Linked DNA regions of Homo sapiens: region 2 is linked to region 1. The links come from fine-mapping of genetic effects on gene expression. Tissue or cell type: CD4 T cells. Region 1 holds a variant in brackets; the other region holds the start of a gene. All regions are shown on one strand. Distances are between the middles of the regions.

Region 1 (8,189 bases):
ATGTCAATAAACATCTCCCAGAATACACCCATTGCCTTAGTGTAGGTTTAATCTCTGGAAGTCACTCTGCCATACTTAGAATTAATCATTCTCAACTGTAAAGAGCACATTCAGCTCAGTGACTAACATCTCATTCCTAAGACCTCAATAACTACTAAGGAATTAAGATATGTGCCTCTGTTCTTAGAAGTCAGGTTCAGTTCAGTCCCACAAACACTAGGGCTTCACTGGAGTCTGGGTTCAGGGTAGGTAGCAAGAATCATAATCATAATTGCCCCTTAGAATTCTCTTGCTCTGCACTGTGTGTGTAACTCCTAAGAAAGATGACTACTCTTTATTTCAGGCTAATTAGAAAAGGCAACATATCTGAGGTGTAAATAATAAATAGGATTTTATGTCTACTAAGTAGGGTAATAACAGTCCTTTTCTACCATTGATTTATCAGCGTATATATCTTATGACTTCAGAGTATATGCAGAGAAATGGCAGTAGCGGATGAGAGAATTTTAGTATCCCCGTTATGAAAAATACATTGAAAAAAATGGAGAAATTGGGAAGAATCTTAGTGACTAAGGGAGAGGGAGCAGCTAGCTACAAAAGGATGCAAGAAAAGGAATTAAGAAATAGGATTGTGTCCCCTCCCCACCCCCCACCCCCCAAAAAAATAGGATTGTCCCGAAGGTTGATATACCTATGGGTGGTGTGTGTATGCATGCATGTATATATACACACATATACGTAACATACAAATATGTATATTGATCCCAGTAAAGTAGATGTGTGTGTATATTTACATGAACACCCTAAAAACAAGATACATTGAATATTTGTTAATATTTTATATATCAATGAGTGATATTTTTACCTTATTTTGTATCTAAATTAAGTTTTATTTGGATGCATTTTTAGCTTACTAACTGTGCTTGCTCTATGAAAGCAATATTGTCTACCACTTTTTATTCAGGTAGTCTACGTAAGAATAATAAGATATTCACTCAATCATACTTATAAAAAAACCATTGGGAAAAACAGTTCGTGAACACCATGCTTTTAACATGAAATTCTAATCATACACGTTTGTGGTTTTTTGGGCAGGTATATTTTGGAACTTCACATCCAAGATACTATATCTCTGCCAATGTAACTGGTTTCAAATGTGTGACAGGAATGTCTTGTTTAATGAGAAAAGATGTGTTGGATCAAGCAGGAGGACTTATAGCTTTTGCTCAGTACATTGCCGAAGATTACTTTATGGCCAAAGCGATAGCTGACCGGTAAGACAACTAAATGAAGCCATAGTATTTTTATTACCTAACTTCTGTTGGTTTATTCTTTTTGTTCAACCTATAGATTAGGGCTTTTTAATTTAATTTTATTTTTTTTGCTAGTAAGTACAGAATAGGTCAATAATTTTATTATTTTGTTTGTTTTTGAGACAGAGTCTTGCTCTGTCACCTAGGCTGGAGTGCAGTGGCGCGATCTTGGCTCACTGTAGCCTCTGCCTCCCGGGTTCAGGTGATTCTCATGCCTCAGCCACCAGAGCACCTGGGACTACAGGCATGTACCACCATGCACACTAATTTTTGTATTTTTAGTAGAGATGGGGTTTCTTCATGTTGGCCAGGCTGGTCTTGAACTCCTGAACTCAAGTGATCTGCCCACCTCGGCCTCCTAAAGTGCTGGGATTACAGGTATGAGCCACCACACCCAGCAGATCAATAATTTTATAGAGTAATTCATATTCTAATTATAGAATTGTAGATATGTACTAATGAAGAAGGTAAATGTTCTGATTCCTCTACATTTTTCAAATTAATGTGTTTTAAAGCGATTAAAAGTAAGTTTCTCTGTGTTTAGAATTTTTACTATATAGATACAAATTTCTGTGTTTTAGAAGAATTAAAACTATCAGTGCAGTCATAAACTAGTAGGTGAAAATTTAAAGACTATCATTTCAAAATTTGAAATTTGTCAGTGAATTATATGATACTTTGCTAAGAAGCCACTGAAAGATTCATATGACTGACTTAGCATTTCTCTATCACAAAATACTTGTTTTGTTTTGGTTTTTTTTTTTTTTTTTGAGACAGTCTCGCCCTGACATCCAGGCTGGAGTGCAGTGGCGCAATCTCGGCTCACTGCAGTCTCCGCCTCCTGGGTTCAAACGATTCTCCTGCCTCAGCCTCCCAAGTAGCTGGGATTATAGGCACCCGCCGCCACACTCAGCTACTTTTTTTTGTATGTTAGTAGAGGCGGGGTTTCACCATGTTGGCCAGGCTAGTCTTGAACTCCTGACCTCGTGATCCGCCCGCCTCAGCCTCCCAAAGTGCTGGGATTACAGGCATGAGCCACTGCATCCAGCCTAAAATACTTGTTTTTAAAGGAGATCACTGCCTTGTGTGAGAATTCTTTTAAATTTTTTAAAAACTGAAGTGTGTTTTAAATACAAATTCTGTCATGATTGTGTTCATGTGGTTCATGGTTTCCTAGTGTCTCCCATGAGATCCATAATGCCACTTTCTGTTTACATGTCTTGTTGTTTGGTTAGTAGTCATCAGAGACTAATCTATTAAATATGGAGCCCTCTCCATTTTTTTTCAAAATGACTGCATTTTAAGTTTCTTAAATTGTAAAGTAAGGTGGGTACAGTTTCTTCTAGTTCTTAGATGGTGCTGTCACGGGCCAGCATAATTGCTAAAACATCCATACGTATGGTAGACCTTAAGTCATGTGCTAATCATGAAAGCTGGGCTCACCCTGAATACCGGCAGTTGCCTGGTCTTTATAATGATTACTGAATGCATAACCAGTTACGCTTGCATGTGTTCATCATCATAACTTATTTTCTAATTATCTTAATTTTCAGAGGTTGGAGGTTTGCAATGTCCACTCAAGTTGCAATGCAAAACTCTGGCTCATATTCAATTTCTCAGTTTCAATCCAGAATGATCAGGTAAATCAACTGTTTTCTTTTTATACTTCGTTAAAAGGAAAGTGGGGAGGGGGGTGGTAATTTTTACAGGTTTAATGTAGTTAAATGAATGTACCTAAAGGTTGAAGATTTTTGTTTAGTTGCAGAAAATAGAGTTTAACGTCTGTGTTTAAGATAAATTTAATGTCTAAATGTATTTTATTTGCTGTATAACACTGAAAGCACTCATTAGAGAAATGTTGAGACTGAATTTTTTAATATGCTGATCTTTATTTTCTAACTTTCTGTGCTGATTAAATTTTATTATCTGTATTCATCAGAGCGTAGGCCATACAAATGAATTTAAAGACATTTTTCTTTGACATCCTAGACAAAAATAGAAAAGAGAGTCATTAAAAAAAATTTTTAGGTTGTGTGTGGTGGCTCACACCTGTAATCCCAGCGCTTTGGGAGGCCAAGGCGAGAGGACTGCTTGAGCCCAGGAGTTTGAGACCAGCCTGGGCAAAATGGTGAAACCCTGTCTCTACAAAAAATGCAAAAATTAGCCAGGTGTGGTGGCGTGTACACCTGTGGTCCCAGCTACTTGGTGGGATGAGGTGGGAAGATCGCTTGAGCCTGGGAGATTGAAGCTACAGTGAGTGCCACTGCACTCCAGCCTGGGTGACAGAGCAGAACCCCGTCTCAAGTAAAAAAAAAAAAACAAAACAAAAAAAGTTTAAAGAGAATGGTCTTTCTATCACAGGGTAAAAAAATTGATTATTTGAGGGAAAAAAAAAAGGATTTGTCTTGTAGCCAGGATATTGTTTTAAAGAAAATCCTTTTTGTTTTTCCAGGTGGACCAAACTACGAATTAACATGCTTCCTGCTACAATAATTTGTGAGCCAATTTCAGAATGCTTTGTTGCCAGTTTAATTATTGGATGGGCAGCCCACCATGTGTTCAGATGGGATATTATGGTATTTTTCATGTGTCATTGCCTGGCATGGTTTATATTTGACTACATTCAACTCAGGGGTGTCCAGGTATGTGGATAGGCATGAAAAGGTTGGCAGTCCCTTGGTGGAACTAGAACTATTTCAATTTAGAAAAAGTTGAAGGAAATGTATCTGAGCCATTCTTCAGCTTCCCATTGTAGGTTAGTCTCGGGTTTGAACATGACTTTCTCTAGTGGAATGTTGATGCAAAACTTAAGTCGATTTGCAACTTTCTATTGGTTATATAATCGCTTTTATTAAGTTTCCAAAAACATGAAGTTAATTAAATCAGTGAGTATTGAAACTAATAAGACATTAAGATAGCAGTTATTTTAATGCTTCATTAACAATTAGCATTTTCTTGAACGGTATAACATGGCAGTTAAATTACATAAGGAAGCAGACTTGATTTTACATAGTATACTTAGAAAAGTGAAATCCAAGAATTTAATTTTTTAACCTTGTCTTTAGTTTGACAGTGAGTGAAATTAAAAAATTTTTTTTTCCATTCCTAGGGTGGCACACTGTGTTTTTCAAAACTTGATTATGCAGTCGCCTGGTTCATCCGCGAATCCATGACAATATACATTTTTTTGTCTGCATTATGGGACCCAACTATAAGCTGGAGAACTGGTCGCTACAGATTACGCTGTGGGGGTACAGCAGAGGAAATCCTAGATGTATAACTACAGCTTTGTGACTGTATATAAAGGAAAAAAGAGAAGTATTATAAATTATGTTTATATAAATGCTTTTAAAAATCTACCTTCTGTAGTTTTATCACATGTATGTTTTGGTATCTGTTCTTTAATTTATTTTTGCATGGCACTTGCATCTGT[G/GA]AAAAAAAAAAAAAACACATCTGTAGTCTTGGCCAAATGATACACTTTATTTTGTGGAAGTAGAGAATCAAGAGAATTGGTTCTAGGAACCTGGGTTCGTTCATCATTGTTGTTTATTTTTTTAAAATAAATAAATAAATATATATATAGATGCTCTGCAACAAACTCTGTGACAGTATCCTTCAGTAGAGAAAGTTTCTTACTTGTGAGTACACTCTTTTAGAACATTTACGGGTGGCAGCAGCTTTGCTTTAGAGTTTAGAAGATAATAGAAGGAATGACTATTCATGTCCAAAGTGAATGGTTTTGTGCAGTGAACAACACATGGCGAGGTACTAACTGAGAAACTTTTTCATGCTTTATGCCTACCTCTTGTAGTTGTTGCAGAGCAAATATAAATTGTAATAAGATAGCTAGGCCTTGCAGAAACAAACAGAAAAACTTAAAAAAAAATGATATAAGAGCTGGAGTCTAGTATTTATATGAATCTGTGAGAGATAATTTTTTTGGTCTCACTGCAATGAACCAAAAGCGGCTGAGTTTGGTTTTTAATTGTAGCCATGTATTGAAGGCATCTTTTTGACCAACTCTTGTTGGTTCTGTCTTGAACCATTGTTAATCACTGTGCTGTAATTAGTATAGCTAAATCTTTTCCTTCCTTGCTCCTCCCCCAGCCCACCCCGTCTTCCCTTAACATTTTTTCAGGGGGGGTTGGGAGTGGTTTCATTTTAGTGTGAGTGGATGTTTTGATAGTTGTAAGGAAAAAATGCATTTCAGACACATTTCACACATGAGCTATTTTCTTACACAGTATGTCTTATTGTTAATAAGAATGTAATTTCATGATACAAGTATTTAATACCTTTTTTAAGTCAGTAAATATTCTAGCCATCAATAAATTGCAGTAGAGTATTAAGAGGGGACAGGATGAGTTTACTCTTAAAATTAATCAGTATCAAACTAAGTCTACTGTGTGTGTTTTTTTTTTTTGTTTTTTGTTTTTGTTTGTTTACTATTATAGTAAGTCTAGTCTTATTTAAATTGGATTTTTGTATTCAAGTTTATATGACAAAATAGACTAGATCAGCGCTGGTTGTAAATGCATGCTGTACCTCACTGTTTTCTCCCCATCATGCCGCTAAACTTGCTCGCCAGGTTGTGCTTAACTTGTGGTGAACTGGACTTGATTCTGTTTTGTTTTGTTTTTTTAAAAAAAAAAAACAAAAATGTAAGGGACAGTGCATAAGCCTTTTCTTTGTTAAGTAGTGGTGTTTTGCTTTTTCTTCAGGATTGGATGGCATGTTGTCCACAGGAATGCCTACTGCAGGGCTAACACTGGCAATATGGCAGCTTTAAATTCTGAGTTACTACAGTCTCCATGTCAAAGCATAATGTGTAGCATATCAGCAATAACTACATATTTATAGAAAACACTTTTTCACTTTACTGAGCCAATTCATTTAATTGTCAAATGTCTATATCCATGGTTTAAATGGCAACATATCTATAAGTATGTATACACATTATATTTAAGCTTTTCTCTGGGCCAAACTGCTTCATCCTTTTTTCTTTCTTTTTTTTTTTTTTTAGCCTTATGATGAATTTGTTTGAAGGGCATTTTCTTTATGAACAAAGGCTTGGATGCATATTCCTTTCTTTCTGTGAATGGGTATTATTCCCTGAGGAAAGTTGCACAGTGAAAACCAGTCTGGTTGTGACCCACTACATGTTTTGTTTTTAATCACTATTACCTGAGTTGAACTTTGCTCACCATGTTTGTACTTGTTGGTCTGTTTAATGAAGTTTGGTTGATGCCATCCTTTGCACTGCCGAAGCGTAATCTTGTGTATTACTTAGCTCTCTGCTGATCTCAGTATGGACAGTGTAACAACAAAACCAAAATGGCTGGACAGACTTCTTGTGTTTTGTAAATATAAACTAGGACAGTTCTGTAGGTTTGTTCAGTGTGCTAGTGGAGTATTTCCTTAATGTAAAACTTCACTTAACAGAGAGATTCTTTGTTTAGCAAGCTTGGAGTGATGATAAAATGGTAAGAAATAATATAAATGTTGAAGAAAGCATCACAACAGAACTATAGGAGTCTAAATTTAATAAATCTTTAAAAAAAACCAGTGTCTAGAATATATACCATGTTTTATTATTTAAAATCATTGTCTTAAATTTTTGTTCAAAAAATAAAAATTTGAATACAATCAAAACGTTAGCAATAGTGTATTTTTTGTTCTTCTGTATTTTTATAAGTAGCATGTTCCACCATTCACATCAGAATTATTAGAAGAGTTCTGTCAAGTATTCCTTTTGAAATCTTCCTTTTACCTGAGCCATAGGTAAAATAAATAAGGACATAGGCAGTCCTGTGACTTAAGTATGGCTTTTCTACATTGGTTGCCTGTTAAAATCACCTGGAGAACTTGTAAAAAAAAAAAAAAATACACAACACACACCCTGGGCCCTGTACACAACACACACACACACCCTGGGCCCTGTACACAACACACACACACACCCTGGGCCCTGCCCACATAGATTTTGGTGTAATTATTTTGGGTGAGGCCTGAGCTCTTCTACCCGTGATTCTACTGTGAGAATGACTGGCTCGTAATGACCTTTAGAAAAGAGCCAGTGGTCCTTTGGGCCCCTCTCCCCCCGGGCTCACAGCTTGAACTCAGCCTTTTAGATCTTACCACTCTAATGGCTAGAAAATGTAAATCCAAAGGAAGGAATGGAGTGGCATTATTACTTGAGACCCAGATGGGAGATGCACCTTACATACTTTCCAAGGCCAGGTCCCTCCCAAGCTGGAAGCCTTTACAGGCCTGTTTTACCACCATCCCATGAGAAAAGAATGTTCTTAACTGGAGAACAAATCCGGGGTAGAAAGAATCCGCTCTCAGCTGATATTTTTGTCTCTCCGTAGTTCCTGTGTTGAAACCTAATGCCCAATGTGAGGAGGGTCTTTCAAGGTGAGGCCTTTGGTAGGTGATCAGAGCCGTCAGGATGGGATTGATGCTTATAAAGGAAACCCCAGAGAGCTTTCTTGCCTCTTCCGCCATGTGAGGATACGGCAAAAAGGTGACCAGCTATGAACCAGAAAGTCAGCTTTTACTAGCCACTAAATCTGCCAGGGCCTTGATCTTAAACATTCCAGCCTCCAAAACTGAGAAAGTTTTGTTGTTTATAACCCACCCAGTCTATGGTATTCTGTTATCGGAGCCGTAAGACACAGTCTAAAAGGGATCTGGCCCAGTAAACAAACATTCCTTCTCATTTGTGTACTTCTAACCCTACAGTTTAAGAAATGATCAACACAAAGTTGAGTATGTCTTAGAATTTCATAGCTAGGTGGATCTTGAGGATCCCTCACCCTTATTTTAGAATGAAGAAGCTGAGACACCCACGGTGAGAGCTGTGATCATAGGGTT
Region 2 (8,175 bases), 36 kb before region 1:
GCTGAGAAGAACACAGCAGCTGAGAAGAACATGAACTCTAGTAAACTCTAGTCACTCCCCTGGACCACACCCACATATATAAACACAGGATACCAGTGGTTTATCAAGATCAGGCCCTGAACTGATAATTTGCCTGGAATCTTTGTATCATTTAAAGGCAATTTACAGTAACACAGTATCTTAGGATCTGAAGGCTTTTACAAAGTTACCATTTCATGCATAACAAACCAATGTAAGTTAATCACCTGAGCTGATAGTTAAGGTATTTTTCTACTTAATTCTAAACATGTTTAGAAAAAAGACAAGAATTACTTTTTTCTTGGCATTAGCACCACAAATTTCACGTCAATTGATTCTTTGTTTATGAAACTTCAAATTTACTCAATTTCTGGAGGATCACCTTGTTTTCACCTTATTTTTTAAGTTTTTATAGGGCTGAAAATTTACAGTATGCCTATCTTTTAAAAATAATAATACACTCACCATAGAAAACTGGATTGTGATGTTTAAAATGTTTACATGAAAAATTATTTATAACAATGACAAAGATGGAAAATATGTGATATTGAGACGAAAATTATGTTGTTGACTGTCAAGTAGAGTATGGGCTTTGGAGCAGGTCTTCAGGACATGATTAGTTGAACTAATATGTAATTACTCTAACTCTTTAGCTTAATTTTATAAGATAAAGGAGGAGGTATGGAAGTTAATGTGTATTTTTCTCACAACGAAAAACCATTTAAAAATCTTTACAGACAAAGGAGAAAGCTGAGAAATTTTTCCAGAAAGTTTTTCCAGAAAATTTCAGAAGTCACTGAAATTTTTCCAGTGACTTCTGTCAATGGATAAATAAACATTTTATCTATTCATTCAGTCAACAAATATTTAAGTGCCCACAAGGTGCTAAATCCTGGGATCTGATGGCAAACTGGTAATTTTTTTTTTTTTAAGTCAGAGTCTCGCTCTGGCACCCAAGCTGGAGTGCAGTGGCATGATCTTGGCTCACTGCAACCTCTGCCTACCAGGTTCAAGTGATTCTCCTGCCTCAGCCTCCCAAGTAGCTGGAATTACAGGTACCCACCACCATGCCTGGCTAGATTTTGTATTTTTTGTAGAAACAGGGTTTTACCACGTTGCCTGCCACCACGCCCAGCTAATTTTTCTATTTTTTGTAGAAACAGGGTTTCGCCATGTTGCCCAGGCTGGCTTGAGATCCTCCCACCTTGGCCTCCCACAGTGCTGCAATTACAGGCCTGAGCCACCGCGCCCAGCCGCAAACTGGTATATCTTATTCAGACATTTATAGCATTTCCAATGTTATACACATATTTGTATACATATATAAGTAGAACACCTTTAGTGGAACACTCACTAATTTTTTTTAAGAATTTACTTTTTAGAGTAGTTTTAGGTTCACAGCAAAACTGAGCAGAAAGTACAGAAGGTTCCCATATACCCACTGCCATTCCCTCCACCAGCCTCCTCCACTATTAACATCTTGCACCAGAGCACCATATTCGTTACAACTGATGGACCTACATTAACACACCATTATCACCTAAAGTCCATAGCTTACATTAGGGTTCACTCTTGGTGGTGTATTTTCTACGGGGTTTGCCAAATATATGACATGTATACACTATTATAGGATCATACAGAATAGTTTCACTCACAGCCCTAAAAATCCTGTCATCTATTTGTCCCTCTTTCCTCTGCTCCATGGCAACCACAGATCTTTATACTGTCTTCATACTCTTCCCTTTTCTAAAGCTGTTTTAAAACGAAGTTTGGGTAAACATAGTTTAACTAGGGTCAAGTATAATATAACTGATCTTTAATCTACTGATTATACTCAATTTAGCAAATTTGTTAACTCTTAAGAATATCTACTTTCACATTTCTTTGGCCTCTTTTTTTGTGTTATTGGTCATACTGTATAAAATCCTTTGTTGTAAGGTTCCAGAAAACATTTTTGAAAAAATGCAGAATATAAAACAATGCTTAAATTAAGCAATTGGTGTTCCTCAAATCTAAGAGGGCATTTAATGATAAGATGCAGCATTATTTTATATATCACTAAGATGCACTATTATTTTATATTTGAGTAAAAGAAAACCACAAGCCATTGGCTGGGCACGGTGACTCACGCCTGTAATCCCAGCACTTTGGGAGGCCGAGGCAGGTGGATCACGAGGTCAGGAGTTCGAGACTAGCCTGAACAATATGGTGAAACCCCGTCTCTACTAAAAACACAAAAATTAGCCGGGTGTGGTGGTGTGCAAATGTAGTCCCAGCTACTGGGGAGGGTGAGACAGGAGAATTGCTTGAACTCAGGAGGCGGAGGTTCCTGTGAGCCTAGATCACGCCACTGCACTCCAGCCTTGGCGACAGAGCGAGACTCCACCTCAAAAAAAAAAAAAAAAAAAAGAAAAAACGCCAATTAACTCTAAGATGGCATTGACTGTGAGATGCATTCCCATTTCAGAGAAATTAAAATTTGTTAAAGTGTTTTTTTGAAGTGTGCCTTAGAATTAACTACAATCGTAAATTTTTGTTTGGAACGTTATTTCGATGTTAGAATTCTATTCCACTTTTTTTTAAGACAGGGACTCACTGTCACCCAGGCTGGAGTTAAGTGGCGCGATCACAGCTCACTGCAGCCGCCACTTCCCAGGATCAGGTGATCCTACCACCTCAGCCTTCCCGGTAGCTGGGACTATAGGTGCCATAACCATGCCTGGCTAATTTTTTTTTTTTTTTTTTTTTGTAGAGACAGGGTTTCATCATGTTGCCCAGGCTGGTCTCAAACTCCTGGCCTCAAGCAATCCTCCTACCTGAGTCTCCCAAACTGCTGGGATTACAGGCATGAGCCACTGCGCCTGGCCCTCCATCCTGCTATTTTTATCAGCCAGTAACTCTCAACAGTGGGAATTTGATTTTGAAGCATTGTTCTTTCCCACTGATTCTGCACCAGTGGAGCCAAGGATGTTAATCGAGGAATGGTTCGGACATTAACTCTTCTAGTTGTAGTTTGTCATTTAATTGCAGATTGAGGTAGATCATTCAGTGACTATTAACTACCATAAACAGCAATAATAAACAACTTCTTTTCTTTTTTTTAAATTCATCTATTTTTTTTCGAGACAGAGTCTCGCTCTGTCGCCCAGGCTGGAGTGCAGTGGCGCGATCTCGGCTCACTGCAACCTCCGCCCCTCCAGGTTTAAGCAATTCTCTGCCTCAGCCTCCGGAGTAGCTGGGATTACAGGCGCCTGCCACCACGCCCGGCTAATTCTTTGTATTTTTAGTAGAGACGGGGTTTCACCATCTAGGCCAGGCCGGTCTTGAACTCCTGACCTCATGCTCCACCTGCCTCCGCCTCCCAAAGTGCTGGGACTACAGGTGTGAGCCACCGCGCCCAGCCACAACTTCTTTTCAAAATTGAATTCAATTCTGAAATATCTCAAGGGAGGTCATGGATTATTTAAAAGGAAATCACTTGCAACAATAAACATAAAACAATGCAGAAATAGTATAAACTCATCTAGATTGAAGAAACACAAACATTGAGTACTAGCATCTTCTTGGGATGACTTAAAATTAGGACAAATACTTAGTTACCTTACTACCCAAAGTGACATTTCTTCCCATTTTAGAGCTGTGCTGTCCACACGTACAATTAAAATTTTCTAGTAGCTAGCCAAAGTATTTAAAAAGAGAAATTAACTTAATAATTTACCTAATTTAATGTAGTATGTCCAAAATATTACCTTTTCAACATGCAATCAATATAAAATTTACTAACGAGATGGTCTTCCACATCTGGTGTACTGTTTACTCCACAGAGTGGCAAGCTGCCTTTCCAACCCTCACTTAGCCACATGCGGCTACCGTATTGGATGGCAGTCTTAGGGAATTTCAATATCAACTGATTCTTTAATTCTGAATTTGAGAATTTCTTTTTATAATACACACGGTCGCTAAGGCGCTTAGAGATCTGTGAGGCGCATGGAGATTATTTTACTCTCCGGTCCCTTTTGATCCAAGATCCCACAGCATTAAAAGCAGTAAGAGGGAAGGCAATGGGCATCCCTTGCGCCCAGGAACGTGGCCTGGAGGGCCTGGCTGCTCCGAGCAGTAGCAGTGCCCGGCGGGGAGGCTGCAGACGCGGCGTTGGAAGTTGGATTTCTAGACAAGCTCCGGCAGCTGCCCGGAACCCGTGTCTTTTTCTGGGGCACCCAGGAACAGCAGGGCCAGACGGAGAGAGAGCAGCCTCCAGCCAGGCACAGGGTCCCGAGCTGCCACCGACACCGAGGGAGCCCGGCCCAGGGCTGCAGCGCTTTCCGCCTAGGTGGGCGGCAGCGGGAGCGAGGAGCCGGAGGAAGCCCGGCCTGCGTCCTGCGGGCAGCAGGACACGATCTCCCCGGCGCGCTCTCGCCGGCGCCGCAGCGGGCGCGCGGGCGACAGGGTGGGCGTGGACCGATGGGGGCACCGCCCCTGGGAGAGGCGGGCGCCGCGGTTCCGGGGGCGGGACGCGCCGAGGAGTGGGGCGCGAGCCGCCGGTTTTGATTAGTGCGCGGAGCTGCGGCGGTGGAGCTGCTCGGCCGGGAGCCCGGCGGCGAGACGGAGAGGCGGCGGAGGTGCCCGCGCGCAGGGTCTGGTGGGCGGCCGCGAGGCTCGGGAGAGGCGAACCGGAGCGCGGGACCGCGGTCGCCCCGACCAGAGCCGGGAGACCGCAGCACCCGCAGCCGCCCGCGAGCGCGCCGAAGACAGCGCGCAGGCGAGAGCGCGCGGGCGGGGGCGCGCAGGCCCTGCCCGCCCCTTCCGTCCCCACCCCCCTCCGCCCTTTCCTCTCCCCACCTTCCTCTCGCCTCCCGCGCCCCCGCACCGGGCGCCCACCCTGTCCTCCTCCTGCGGGAGCGTTGTCCGTGTTGGCGGCCGCAGCGGGCCGGGCCGGTCCGGCGGGCCGGGGGATGGCGCTGCTGGACCTGGCCTTGGAGGGAATGGCCGTCTTCGGGTTCGTCCTCTTCTTGGTGCTGTGGCTGATGCATTTCATGGCTATCATCTACACGTGAGTGAGGGACCGCAGGAGGGGCTCGGGGCAGGGGTCCGGGCCTCGGAGACAGGCGAGAATGGGAAACGTTTGCGCTTTGAAGGGGACTGGGCTCGGGCGGGGGTGGAGAAAGCTGATCGTCAGGCTGTTCCCCCCGTTCCCTCGCCCCTCGGACCGGCGGTGGCGGTGGTCTTTGCGAGGGAAAAGTGTTGGGCGTGGGAAGGGTTTGCTGGGTTGCAGGCGACTGCCCAGCCAGGCTAAAGGAGACTGCTCTTACGTGTCAGGCTGAAGGTGGTGGCTTGGTTTGATTGTGCTGGGGATTCGTGTAATTTTTCATCTGGGCCGAGATGTATGGTGTATTGTTTTTTTCTCCCGACCTGGGCCACGTTTCTGTTAGGGTGGTGATTGTGTCCACTTTTCTGGGAGCTGCTCACAGCTATCTGGACACCTCTCTGTGGATTTTCTTCTTCCTGGAAGGGCTCTATGCGCTTAGATAGGTGTGAAGCACCTGTCCACCCTGAAAAATGTCCACCAAACCTCCGAGCTGGCATGATAGCTTTGAGTCCTGTCAGCTTGTACATCTCAGCGTGGTTTTCTTTCCTTTTTTCAGTTCCTCGTTTTATTGTTTTATGTAGATTTGTACTCTCCCCGTGCCGGCCACATCTTTTCATTTTTGTTTAACAAATACTTCTTGAGGCCTACTAGATACCATTCACTGTTATTGGCCAGGGGACATGGTGGTGAGCAGGACAGAATTCCTGTCCTCATGAGTCTTACATTCTAGAAGGAAGGAGCAGATAAAATCTAAATAAGGTTATGAGATTGTGACGAAGCGTGTAAGTAAAATAGAACTGGGTGATGGCGTGAATAGAGACATGGGTTATGTGGCTAGTTTGGTATATCCACTGTTTAAGGTGAAATCTGCCTCTGTAAAGAAATGAAAAAATTATATAGAGCACATTACTGATATCGATTCACTTGGATTTTTAGTCTGGGGGGAGAAAAGAGCAATTGTATATAGTAATCGTTACCATGAACTAGAATAGAGTGTATGTTAGTGGAAGAGACTTTAAGAAATTAGTTACTTTTAGTTTTTTGGTTTTTTTTTTTTCCTTTTTACTGCGGAAAAAGTGTGCCTTTGCTTTTGGAAACACTGTATTTTATTAGTATAGTGTGGCATTTCCTGGTACTGAGAAAGATGATGCTGGTACAGGTTATACTGATATTTCTTTGAAAGTGAAAGAAAACATGCCACTTGGATATTGTTGACTTTAGTTTTTGGAGTTGGTGAGCTTAGTCACAGCACATTCTGGAGTTCATTTAAAATATGTGAGTTCTTTTTCTTTAAAAAAATTGTTACTTTTTACCGTCATAAAAATAAAAAATGCTTACTGTGTAAGGAATTTATGCAATAGAGAGAGATGGAGAAAATTAAAATATGCACACACCAAAACTACATTACCTTGTTAACCTTTTGTGACTATCCTTCCAATCTGTGTGTGTGTGTGAGAGAGAGAGAAGGAGGGAGGGGAAGAGGGAAGAGAGAAAAGGACTATATTATGATTATTGTTCTGTAACCTGCTTTAAAGTTCATCTGTTTAATAAATGTTTATTGAAAAGCCGTTTTGTGCAAGGCACTGTTCTAGTTGCTGGAAGAGTGAAGAACAAACATACAAGGCCCCTGTTCACATGGAACTGTCCTGTAAAATGTCTTGACCGTTTTTTGCATGTCAATATCTGTATGATCTCTACATCATTTGTAATAGATGCATGATATTTTAGTTTACCAGGTACCAAGATTTATTTATTATTACTGATGGATGTTTAGGTTGTTTCCAATTTATCTAGATTACAAAGAACACTGTGATGAATTTATATGCATACATCTTTGAGAAATGATCTCATTTATATTTCCGAAAGAGGAATTATTGGGCCAGAAGTGGTGCACATTTTAAACTTTGATACATATTGGCCCCATGGAAATGTTATGTATATTCACAGTCCTGGTAACATTGTATGATGGCCCCATTTTGCCTTACAAACACTAAGTAGCAGGCATTTCACTGTTTTCTGTTTCTATTTTCATTCCTTTAAAGTTACATTGAGCACTTTTAAAATATGTTTATATGCTAGTTACATTTAGATGTAAATTACATACTCATAATCCTTTGCCTGTGCTGCAATCTGTTGCTGAATTCATCTTTCTGATATAAAGGTTGTTTTCTGTCACATGTAGCATTCTTTTCCCCAGTCTGTTTTTTGTCTTTTAACTTTGTACATATATTTGACATGGAGAAAAGTGTGTGTGCATGTGTGTTTTAGGTAGATAGGTCTTTCCGTTTCTTTTACATTTTCTAACTCTGTTATAATTTTTATATCTTCCTTATTCCTCCAAATTATTATATATGTTAGTCTCTGCTTCCTCTTAGTATTTTTTTCTTAATTTTTTCACATATTACCCTGAATTCACCCAGTATTTTACTTCGTTATATGAGAGCTAGAGCCCTAATTATAGTTTCTTCTAAATATTTAGAGACTTGTCCAGAATTACTTATCAGATGATTATTTGATTATTCCACTGTTTTGAAATATTTTTATTATAAACTAAATTCTGCTTTATACTTGGGTATGTTTCAAAGCTTCTATTGCCCTTTCTTAACCTATTTTAGATGGCAGATGTTTGTAGGATTTCTGCCAACAATGTCAAAGGTAACATTCAGATTAGAGACATTTCAAATTCAAGAGTCTTATTGTTGAGATTGAAGATTTCCTAAAAATAACTAAAGAGTATAGCCTTGGCAAGTTAAATAGCCTTTATGGGTTAATTTTTTTTTTTTTTTTTAATGGTAAGTGCTAGTGTGGCTTGATAGGTTGGGGCCTAAGGTGAAATTGTATAAAAGCCTAGACCTGATGGTAGTGTTTCTCTTCTAGCCCTTGGGAGCCACGTTGCTGCGTGATGAAGTGATCTAAGCAGAAACCTTGCTTCATGCTCTCTTCCCTATCCCATCCACCTCATATTATTATTATTTCCCTGTGTACATAAGGTCCTAATGTTTATCATCAGGCTTTATCTTTCGACTGGAGGTGCTAGGCTAGTGTGGAAATAATTTATGTGTCCTTAAATA

Which allele goes with the higher level. Positions count from the first base shown, and alleles are read on the strand shown. Sizes are in standard deviations (SD) of each study's normalised expression.
With allele G in place of GA in region 1, the expression in CD4 T cells of the gene that starts at base 4,569 in region 2 is lower (moderate effect, 0.50 SD a copy in CEDAR).

Evidence for each region. PIP is the estimated chance that this variant, and not a neighbour inherited with it, causes the effect.
Region 2: UGCG starts here. The variant in region 1 is fine-mapped to the expression of UGCG in CD4 T cells (CEDAR, PIP 0.95).

The regions. Positions count from the first base shown.
Region 1 is chr9:111,928,405-111,936,593 of GRCh38, forward strand. It overlaps UGCG (UDP-glucose ceramide glucosyltransferase), which reads left to right. Exons shown (of 9, transcript NM_003358.3): 6 at 1,096-1,274; 7 at 2,867-2,953; 8 at 3,766-3,955; 9 at 4,423-6,965. The coding sequence ends at 4,593. It overlaps MIR4668 (microRNA 4668), which reads left to right and starts at 3,696; the gene lies at 3,696-3,765. The variant G/GA (reference allele first, on the strand shown) is at 4,747.
Region 2 is chr9:111,892,246-111,900,420 of GRCh38, forward strand. UGCG (UDP-glucose ceramide glucosyltransferase) reads left to right here and starts at 4,569. Exons shown (of 9, transcript NM_003358.3): 1 at 4,569-5,068. The coding sequence starts at 4,971. RefSeq lists an enhancer at 4,020-4,603 and silencers at 4,224-4,813, 4,924-5,013.